2 separate regions of the Homo sapiens genome follow, and region 2 is linked to region 1. Evidence: fine-mapped QTL for protein levels in blood plasma. A gene starts in region 1. The other region holds a variant in brackets. All regions are shown on one strand. Distances are from middle to middle.

What was found. PIP is the chance, under the fine-mapping model, that this variant and not a neighbour inherited with it causes the effect. Protein levels are from the aptamer-based SomaScan assay of Sun 2018.
Region 2: its variant is fine-mapped to the plasma level of the TREM1 protein (Sun 2018, PIP 0.95).

The regions. Positions count from the first base shown.
Region 1 is chr6:41,284,541-41,289,925 of GRCh38, forward strand. TREM1 (triggering receptor expressed on myeloid cells 1) reads right to left here and starts at 2,142. Exons shown (of 4, transcript NM_018643.5): 1 at 2,067-2,142. The coding sequence starts at 2,115. RefSeq lists a silencer at 4,127-4,216.
Region 2 is chr6:41,262,004-41,267,388 of GRCh38, forward strand. It overlaps a transcript of TREM1 not described here. Among named protein-coding and RNA genes, the nearest start is that of TREM1, 22 kb to the right of the region's middle. The variant T/A (reference allele first, on the strand shown) is at 2,536.

The DNA.
Region 1 (5,385 bases):
ACTGTAGCTTACCCACTCAGGCCTGGGGTACCTTCCCCCATGGAGCACCAAATAACAGGCTAGACAGTGCTGCTGGGTCTACTGTGTGGGTCACGGTAACACTAGTACTGCTGTTATTAATACCACACACTTAGGTCCTTGCAGGCCTGGTGAAAAATGACAAGTGCTTACCCTTTCATGGAGCCCCCTGGCATGCCCACCCCAGGATAGGCCAACAGATCTGCCTGACCTTAGGAAGACTCAACTCAGGGACTCACAAGGAGTTTAAAGGTGAAATCAGTCTTGAAAGCCAGTTCTTCTGGGAGCAGACTCCAGTTTCTAGGGAAACCTCGGAAACAGACCTCTTGGGCAACTCCCACACACTCCAGTCAGGAATGTGCCTCCAAGAGACTGTTGACCAGAGGCTGAGTGTTGTCTGAAACCAAGCCTGGTTCCCTCATTTGTTCACTCACTCATCAGACTGGCTGGGAGACTTCTCTATCATAGGCACTGTGCTGGGCTCTTTGGAAGACACACAGACTCCATCCTCAAGTTGCCACCACTGAAGCCCTAACCTCTGAAGTTAATGTTACAGATAAATCTCTTTTATTTGCCAGCTCCCCAGGGAAGGTGGGAGTTACAGGTGACTGAGTTTGCAAACTTGCCTGTCTCTCACAGAAGGAAGGAGACAATAAGAAATGAAGGCTGCTGAGCTGTCTGTGCACAATTGCAAGAAGGGAATTCCTTTGAATATGTTAATTAAAAGGGTAGCAAATACTACCTATTAAGTATTATGTGCTAAGGGTTTTTAAAGACTATCTTATTTAATCTTTATAAAGTAAAAAGTTGACACCATTATTCTCCCCATTTTATAGATAAGGAAACTGAGGCACAGACAGATTAAGTGATTTGCCCAAAGTCTCACCATAGTTAAGTACTAGAGCCAGGATTCAAACCCAAGGACTCTGGTTCCACCTAAAGCACTGAGCTACATGGTCCAACACAGTCTGATAGGGATTAGAGAAGTCCTGGCCCAAGTGTGAATAAGTATCCAGTTGCAAGGAGCATTGAGGTTAACCCCTAACCTATCCCCACAGGGCACAATGAAATATATACCACTGGTTTTCTCTCACACAGGTACATAACCTTCAGCCCTCTGCCATCTCCCAGTTCTCCTTCAGAAAAACATGAATCAAACACAAGGAAATGCACTTGTCCATGAGGAGCTAACTCCCTTCTGCCCATCTAGATTATCACCCCAGCTCCAAGAAGACCCAGAGCAATGTCTGAGCACAGGCTCTTCAAGGCAGTTGTCCATGACTTTGCTCAAAGTAGAGAGCCCAGGAGGATACCTCTCCCTGATTTTTCATGCCTTCCCAAGGCAAGCCTCGCTTTTAACTCATATTGACACTTTCCTCCTGTTATTCATAAGGATTAGGAGGAGGAGTGAATAAAGCCCGCATGCTTCTGGTTTGGGTGCAGATGTGAGCTGTGCGGATCGTAAGAGGAGACACAAGAAAGAGCTGGGGCATGCGCCGGCTCTGCTGAGCCTCAGCAACTGTGCCCTCCAACCCCAGCGTGCCATGGAGAGCTGGGATGATCACCTCCACCAAAATGAGCACCAGCCTCTTCTGGTCACGTCTGTGTCCTCAGCAGTAGTATATTTGCTGTCCCATAGTAGACCCCTGGGAAATATTTGTTAAATCAATTCTGTCTTTTGGGTTTAACAGATTGTCAACATCAAACACATCATGATGGAATATAAGAAAAAAATTTCAACATCAAATAAACTTATTGTAGATCATGCCATGATGAGATCTACTCTATCATTATTCCCATACTAGGCTTTGCATGTCTCTAACAACATCGACATGCACAGACATCTTTTTTCCCTGACTCTCTCCTTCTTTTACTTTTGTGTGCAGACACTGCATGTTCTCCCAATTCTGGGTAGAGCAGCACGGTCTGCCATAACTACTGGTTGGCTCTATCTTGGATGGCCCTGTGCTCTGAAGCTTCAACAGAAAAGGGCTCCCCGAGATCCTGGACCAAACGCCTCCCCTGCTCAGTCCTCTTCCTTGTCTTACCTGAGACAAAGAGCATCCACAGCAGCCCCCAGAGCCTGGTCTTCCTCATCCTTCCTGTGCACCAGCTCCAACTGCTGCTGAGGGCTCCCGGGACAGCTACAAGGCACCACAATGACCTAGAGGCTTCGGAAAGTTGCACAACAGGATATGAGGCCATTCCTGGGAGTCACTGAGTTTGGGTTCTGTTTCATCACCAGTTGCTCTGACTCCTGACATCAACACAATAATACAGAGACCAAGACTCACTTCTCAGTTAAGTTTCTTTGAACTCCAGTTTTCCTTTCTGTGGTAATAATGACAATTACCTTTCAACCTTACAAAATCTAAGGGAGAATGATACTTGAATGTAAATCAAAGTAAGGCATTCATATTAGGAAGGGGAACAGAGGGCCCTTTGCTCTCCAGAGGCCCCCTCTCCATTCACATCCAGTTTAGTGTAGTGAAGAGAGTCAGGCCCACATAGGGAGAGGCTGCGACAATCGTATCTCATCTTCAGGGTTTTTGTGAGAACATGTTGCTTCATCCTGCCCTGCTCAGCCCCGTGGGTTCTCTTGGCTTCTGGTGACCTGGGGTGCACCTCCTCTTCATCACCAGGAGGGCCACACCCTGCATTTGTCCTTCAGCATTGCCACAGACATGGCCTGGGAGCTCACGGGGGTGTAGGGACCCCAGAAACAATTTGAGAGGACACTGCCACCACCCAACAAGAACAGACTTAGATTTAAAAAGGAAACTTGGTTCAAGACGCTGAAGCAAGAAGAAAAAATCCAGCAGGTTTTGTACTAGAAGCAAGAAAAGACAGATTTGACAGTGTGAAAATCAAATCAATAATGGAGAGGATTCACTTCAGAAATATTCCCAAATGTGAAATGAATAAAGACATTTAGAAGAGCTCAGAAATTTAAGGGAGGACAAATCACAGAATTCCAATCTACAAATCAGAGATGTCCTTAAAGCATAAAATGGAATGGTGGATCACAAGCAAGATTAAAAATTTTATCTTAAAAAATATGCTTTCCAGGTCTGAGAAGAAATCTAAAATTGGAGGTTGAGAGTTCAACATGGGCAAGGAAAAAATTCACAAAGTGAGACCTAGAATAGGAAGTTTCCAGGTGAAAATTTTTAAATTTAAATAAAAAGATTCCTACTGCTAAATAAACAAAAAAATAACTTGGTTTCTTCAAAGGAATTGAAATAATCAGGACTCAGATTTCTTCTCTGAGTAACAAATACCATGAGAGAGTGGGATGAGGTATAAAGAACATTATGACCCTAATATTTTACACCCAAATTGATTGCTACTCAAGTATAGGAACAGCTAAAAGGTACTATCATGTCTGTAAATTAAAACAAACAACAACCAAAAAAATTTTCAAGGCTAACTTTAATTTTTTTTATTAAAGCTGTTCAATGCAGCAATTTATAAAATATAGAAAATAATACATAAACTTAAATCATGTTATTACACTTTATAGAGATCATTTGTAGTGGAGATTTTACTATGTTTATTTTTTGTTCTACAAATAATGTCGGAAAACAGGCTTCAAACATGCTTGAACTGAAATCTGCTGGCCCCTCCTTTTGCTGTACTCAAGCAGTCCCTAAAGAGGAAAAATAGACAGAAAGCTCTTGACATTTTCTGACTCAGAGAGGAGCCTACGTGACTTCTGTGGCGATGAGTCAAATTAATAAAGTTTATTTCAGTGAATAAATCCCCTCCTTACAACAAAATTAATATTCCACACTTAAATAATAGCTATTTCACATACTTTCTACATTTTTGTGTCTTCATATACTTTGTGTGGAGGATTAAGCTCCTGGAAGATTAAGAGGGAGCTTTGAACTAAACAGTCCAAGAAGAATTTTTAATTAGACTTGAATATCACTGGAGGCTGATTGCTCCTTCACATTTTCCTAACTACGGACAGCACCTGCATTTAAATTAGAATGAAGTAGAATGAGGTCTTTCTCCACTTGTCTGATCTATTTGTGTACTTGAGGTCAACAGTGCAAATAGTCACGTGTCACTTAATGACAGATACATTCTGAGAAATGTGTTGCTAGGTGATTTTGTGTTGCAGGAACATCATGGAGTGCACTTACACGAACTTAACATGGCACAGCCTACTGTACACCTAGGCTGTATGGTATAGCCTATTAATATTAGGAAGGGGAACAGAGGGCCCTTTGCTCTCCGGAGGCCCCCTCTCCATTCACATCCAGTTTAGACAAATACCTTTCAACCTCACAAAATCTAAGGGAGAATGATACTTGAACATAAATCAAAGTAAAGCATATTCCTAGGCTGCAAGCCTGCACAGTATGTTACAGTCCTCAATACTGTAGGCATTTGTAACACAATAGTAAGTATTTGTGTATCTAAACATAGAAGAGGCATAGTAACAATACGGTATTATGACATTATAATCTTATGGGACCTCCACCATATATGCAGTCTGTCATGGACCAAAACTTCCTTGTGCAGCACATGGCAGCATTCTCTAATCCTTACCACTTTATTTTTCTGAGGAGTTTAATGACCCGATCAGTAACTTCTTCAGGCTGAATAGGCAGGACGATATTCCTGCCTAACTATTAGGGTCTCTTTAAATTCTCAAGCTACTGCTCCCAACAAGATATTATTTCTTAAGGCTTCTCATAGAAGAGCACTGTCATTTGTGACCTATGGTTCCTGTTAATTTTACTAAGGCTGGGTCACATGTCCCATTTCCATGCTTGCTCATAGGGTGGCCTCTAGCACTAGGAAGATTTAGTCTTTGGGTACCATGAACCTTTCCATATTTGCCAAACTTCATCTTCAGAGCTATTATGAAATCAATACAGTTTCAACATTGATACAATTAATGAAATAATACCAATATTATTCTGTTTTGTTTTGTCTTCAATAAGTCACTGCCCCAAGTCAGTAGGTCTCGATCTTCACTATGGGGTAAATTAGCAGTTTCTTCCTTAATAAAGATTGGTTAATCTAACCTAGCTAGAATATATGTGTAACATTTTTTAACAATGAGATTGCATATAAAATATCTTCTTTTCTGGCTCAGAGGAGGGGCCCACATGGAACTGGAACACAGATCTCTGAGGATAGTGTGACCCTGGTGCTGATATCTCTGAGGAGGCCCAATGAGACTACTTCTGAGAGTGGGGAAAACTGCAAACTGGAACCAGTCACTGTTGCCCGTGAAAAGCATCACTGAGGCTACTCACAATGAAAGAGAATGAAATAGGAATCAGTGAGCATGTCCTGTCTTCCTCCTCCAGCCTCCCAATCTCCCTCTAATGCCCCTATCGAGAGTCC
Region 2 (5,385 bases), 23 kb before region 1:
AACTCACTAGTAAAGCAATTACACAAAGAAGGTAGAGAAAAGAATCAAATGACACTACTGCAAAATTTCACCAAACCACAAAGACAAACAATGAGAGAAAAAGAAAAAAACAAAGACTTGATAGAACAACTAGAAAATAATTAGCAATATGAGAGAAACAAAACCCCACATATCAATATTAACTTTAAATGTAAATGCATTAAATGCTCCACTTAAATGATATAGATTGGCTGAATTAATTTTTTTAAACATGATTCGACTATATGCTGCTTACAAGAAACTCACATTATCTATAAAGACATATACAGACTGAAAGCAAAGTGTGGAAAAAGATATTCCATGCAAATGGAAACCAAAAGTGATCAGGAGTAGCTATACTTATGTAGTATAAAACAGACTTTAAATGAAAAACAACATAAAAAGACAAATAAGGTTATTATATACTGATAAAAGGATTGATTCAGCAAGAGGATAAAACAATTCTGAATATATATGTACCCAACACTGGAGCACCTAGATTCATAAAACAAATAATATTAGACCTAAAGAGATAGACAGCAATACAATAATAATGAAGGCCTTCAACACCCCACTCACGGTATTAAACAGTTTATCTACAAAATGATCTAAAATCAACAAAGAAACATTGGACATAATTGGACGTTAGAACAAATCAACAGACATCTAGAGAACATTCTACCCAACAATTGCAGAATATACATTCTTTCAGCAGCCCTTGGAAACTTCTCCAAGATAGACCATATAGTAGGCTACAAAATAAGTCTCAACAAATTTTTAAAAATAGAAATCATATGAAATATCTTCTATGATCATCAAAATTTATTCCACATCACAGTGGAATAAGTTTTTTAAAATAGAAATTATATAAAGTATCTTCTAGGATTGCAGTGGAATAAAACTAGAAATCAATACCAAGAAGAACTTTGGAAACTATACAAATACATGGAAATTAACACACTCCCAAAAAAAATCACTGGACCAATGAAGAAATTAAGTTAGAAATTTAAAAACTTTTAGAAACAAGTGAAACCTGTTAGGTTTCTACCTAACAGAGATCTTGCCATTGCACTCCAGCCTGGGCAAAAAGAGCGAAACTCCATCTCAGGAAAAAAAAAAAAAAAAAAAAAAAAGAATAAAAGAAAAAATAAGAAAAGCTCAGGACCGGATAGATTCATAGCTGAATTCTACTAATCCTCCTCAAAAAGACATCTTCCAAAAAAATCAATGAGGAGAGAATTCTTCATAACTCATTCTACAAGGCCAATAGATCCCTGATACCAAAACCAGAAAAGGACACAACAAAGAAAAGAAGTCTACATACTAATATTCCTGATAAACATAGACACAAAATTTCTCAACAAAACACTAGCAAACAAAAACCAACAGTACATCAAAAAAAAGTACACGATGATTAAATGTGTTTTATACTAGGAATGCAAGGATGGTTCCACAATGCAAAGCAATAAATGTGATATAGCACATAAACAGAATTAAGGACAAAAAATGTATTATCATCTCAATAGACACAGAAAAAGCATTCAAAAATTCAGCATCCCTTCACAATTAAAAACCCTCAACAAACTAGGCATCAAAGGAACATACCTCAAAATAACAAGAGCCATATATGACAAACTCACAGCCAACAGACTGAATGGGGAAAAGTTGAAAGCATTTCCTCTAAGACCTGGAACAAGACAAGGATGCCTACTTTCACCAGTCCTGTTCAACATAGTACTGGAAGTCCTGACCAGAGCAATTGGGTAAGATAAAGAAATAAAAGACATCCAAATTGGAAAGGAGGGAGTCAAATTACTACTCTTAGCTGATCACATGATCTTATATCTGGAAAAGCCTAAAGACTTCACCACAAAACTCTCAGATTTGATAAATGAGTTTAGTAAAGTTGCAGGATGCAAAATAAATGTACAAAAATCAGTAGTGTTTCTATACACCAATAATGATATAGCTGAGAATAAAATAAAGAAGGCAATCCCATATACAATAGTTTCAAACAAATTTAAATATGTAGGAATAGATTTAACCAAGGAGGTGAAAGATCTACAAAACACTGATGAAAGAAATTATAGATAACAAAAACAAATGGAAAAACATTTCATGCTCATGGATCAAAAAAATTAGTATCATTACAATGACCATACTTCAGTTAATAGGATTACTATTAAAAATAAAAATAAATAGGCTGGGCGTGGTGGCTCATGCCTTTAATCCCGGTACTTTTGGAGACCGAGGTGGGTGGATCACCTGAGGTCATGAATTTGAGACCAGCCTGACCGATATGGTGAAACCCTGTCTCTACTAAAAATACAAAAATTAGCCAGGCATGGTGGCGTGTGCCTGTAATCCCAGCTACTTGGGAGGCTGAGACAGGGGAATTGCTTGAACCTGGGAGGCAGAGGTTGCAGTGAGCTGAGATCACGCCACTGCACTCCAATCTGGGTGACAGAGTGAGACTCCATCTCTAAATAAATAAATAAATAAATATATATATATATA[T/A]ATAAATAAATAAATAAAATGACCATACTGCCCAAAGCAGTCTACAGATTCAATGCAATCCTTATCAAAATATCAATATTATTTTTCACAGAATTAGAAAAACATAATCCTAAAATTCACATGGAAACCAAAAAGAACCCAAATAGCCAAAACAATTCTAAGCAAAAAGAACAAAGCTGGAGGCATGGTGTTACCTGACTTCCAATTATATTACAACACTAATATAACAATAGTAACCAAAACAGTTTGGCACTGGTATAAAAATAGACATGTAGATCAGTGGAACAGAATAGAGAACTTGGAAATAAAGCCACTTATTTGTGGCCAATTCATTTTTGACAAAGTTGACATGAACATACATTGGGGAAAGGACACCCTTCTAAATAAATGGTGCTGGGAAAATTGAATGTCCCTATGCAAAAGAATGAAACTGGTCCCCCATCTTTCACCATATACAAAAATAACTCAAGATGGATTAAAAACTTAAACATAAGACCTAACATTATAAAAATAACAGAAGAAAACCTAGGGAAAACTCTTCTGGACATTAGTTTAGGCAAAGAATTTATGACTAAGACCTCAAAAACAGAGACAACAAAAACAAAAATAGACAAATGAGACTTAAAAGCTTCTGCACAGAAAAAAAAAAGATGAACAACACTTTAGAATGGGAGAAAATATGTGCAAACTGTACCTCCAACAAGGGACTAATATCAAGAATATACAAGGAACTCAAGCAATTCAACAACCAAAAAAACCCATTAAACCCAAATAATCTCATTAAAATGTGGGCAAAGGACATCAACAGACATTTTATACCAATCAGAATGGCCATTGTTAAAAAGTCAGAAAAGAACAGATGTTGGCAAGGATGCAGATAAAATGGAACTCTTATACACCGCAGGTGGGAATGTAAGTTAGAACAGCTACTAACAAAAAATAAATTTCTCAAAGAATTAAAAATAGAACTATCATTTGATCCAGCAATCCCAACTGTATACCTAACAAAAGAAAAATAAATCAATATATCAAAAGGATACCTGCACTTGTGTGTTTATCTGCACTCTTCACAATAGCAAAGATATGGAATCAACCAAAGTGTCCATCAACAGATGGCTGGATAAATAAAGTATGATATATATACACAATGGAATACTATTCAGCCATAAAAATAATGAAATCATGTCTTTTGCAGCAACATGGATGGAACTGGAAGCCATTAGCTTAAGTGGAACAAGTCAGACACAGAAAGACAAATAGTGCATACTTTCACTCATAAGCTGAAGCTAAAATATTTGTACACATGAACATAGAGAGTAGAATAATAGACAATAGAGACTCAGAAGAGTGAGGGGATGGGGGTGGGGTGGATGATGATAAATTGCTTAATGGTATAATGTACATCATTCAGGTGATGGATACCCTAAAAACCCTTACTTGGACACTTTGCAATTCGTGCATGTAATGAAATTGCATTTGTATCCTGTGAATTTATACAAATAATTTCAACATCTAAACTAACCAAGGGCTGATTAAAAATCAACAAGCGGAAGGAAGGAAGCCAAATAGAAAATGGTTAGAAATAGGTTATACATTGCAGTAAAAAACTATATGCCCAAGAAACTCATAAACAGATGTTTGATCGTGTTAGTTAGAGAAATACTAATTTTAAAACATGGAACTGTCACTTTGAACTCATCTGAATGGTGAGCACATGGAAGGTGGATGACACTAGGAGTTGGTGAGAGTGGAGGAAAGGGGGATCCTTGAGCCCTGCTGGGGGGAATGCAACATGACCCAACATTCTGGAGAACAATCTGGAGCCTCTGTGGCATAAATATGTGGCTATCCCATGCTCAATGTTCCATCCCTGACTTATGCTCTGTTATGCATACTATTTTTTACGTCCTGTTTAGAAAATATTTGACTTCTCCAAGGTCATTTTTTCTACATTTTCTTCCAGAAACTATATTGTTTTCACCTTTTATATTTAGGTCTATGATGCATTTTCAATTAATTTCATGTGCAGTGTGAAAGAGTTAAAAACCTATTTTGTTTTCTGGGTGGGTATCCAACTGATCATTACCCTTTGATAGAAACAACATCTTTTCCACACTAAATTGCAGAGGCCCTTTAGTGGCAGTCAAGTGACTGTCTATGTGTGGGTATGTTCCTAAACCCTCTATTTTGTTCCTATTTTCTATTTGGCTTAATGCCAACTTAACATGTAGTTTAAAAAATTCTTATATGGCTCCTTCAAGAGCATGAATGGAAGTGTTTATTTTGAGGTATTTTGTTTGCTTGTTTTTCTGTTTGTATGCTTGTGTTGTTTTGTGGTAGTAAAGAGTTGAAGCAACTTAGGTTCCCATCACTAGGGGGAACAGAAAAATGAAATCCAATACTGCCCCTACATTATATGAAATCCTACCTAGCAGCCAAAAATTGAAGATTTAGATTTACATATAGCAACAACGGATAGTCTCAGAAGCACAATGCTATCTGAAAACATATAACTAGAGTTATAATTTTCAAAAAAAAAGCTTAAACCATGAGACAAAAATAAACACATGCTAAAAATTTTATTTAACTCATAATACATAATTTATTTGAGAAGATGTTATACCAGTTTAAAAATGGAAGTCAAAAGGCACAAATGTATATGAAGTAAAGGAATATTGAAATGAATTGTACGTGGAAGCATATCAGTTTGGGGTTTGCTTTTCCCTCTCAGCAGGGGAAGGAAGACAGGGCAGAGTTTGCTTGTCTATCAATAACCTGCCTTTGTGAAAGTTAGACTTCTCTCACAAAATGATTACCAGATAACATAAAGAAGAGAGTGCAATAGATAAT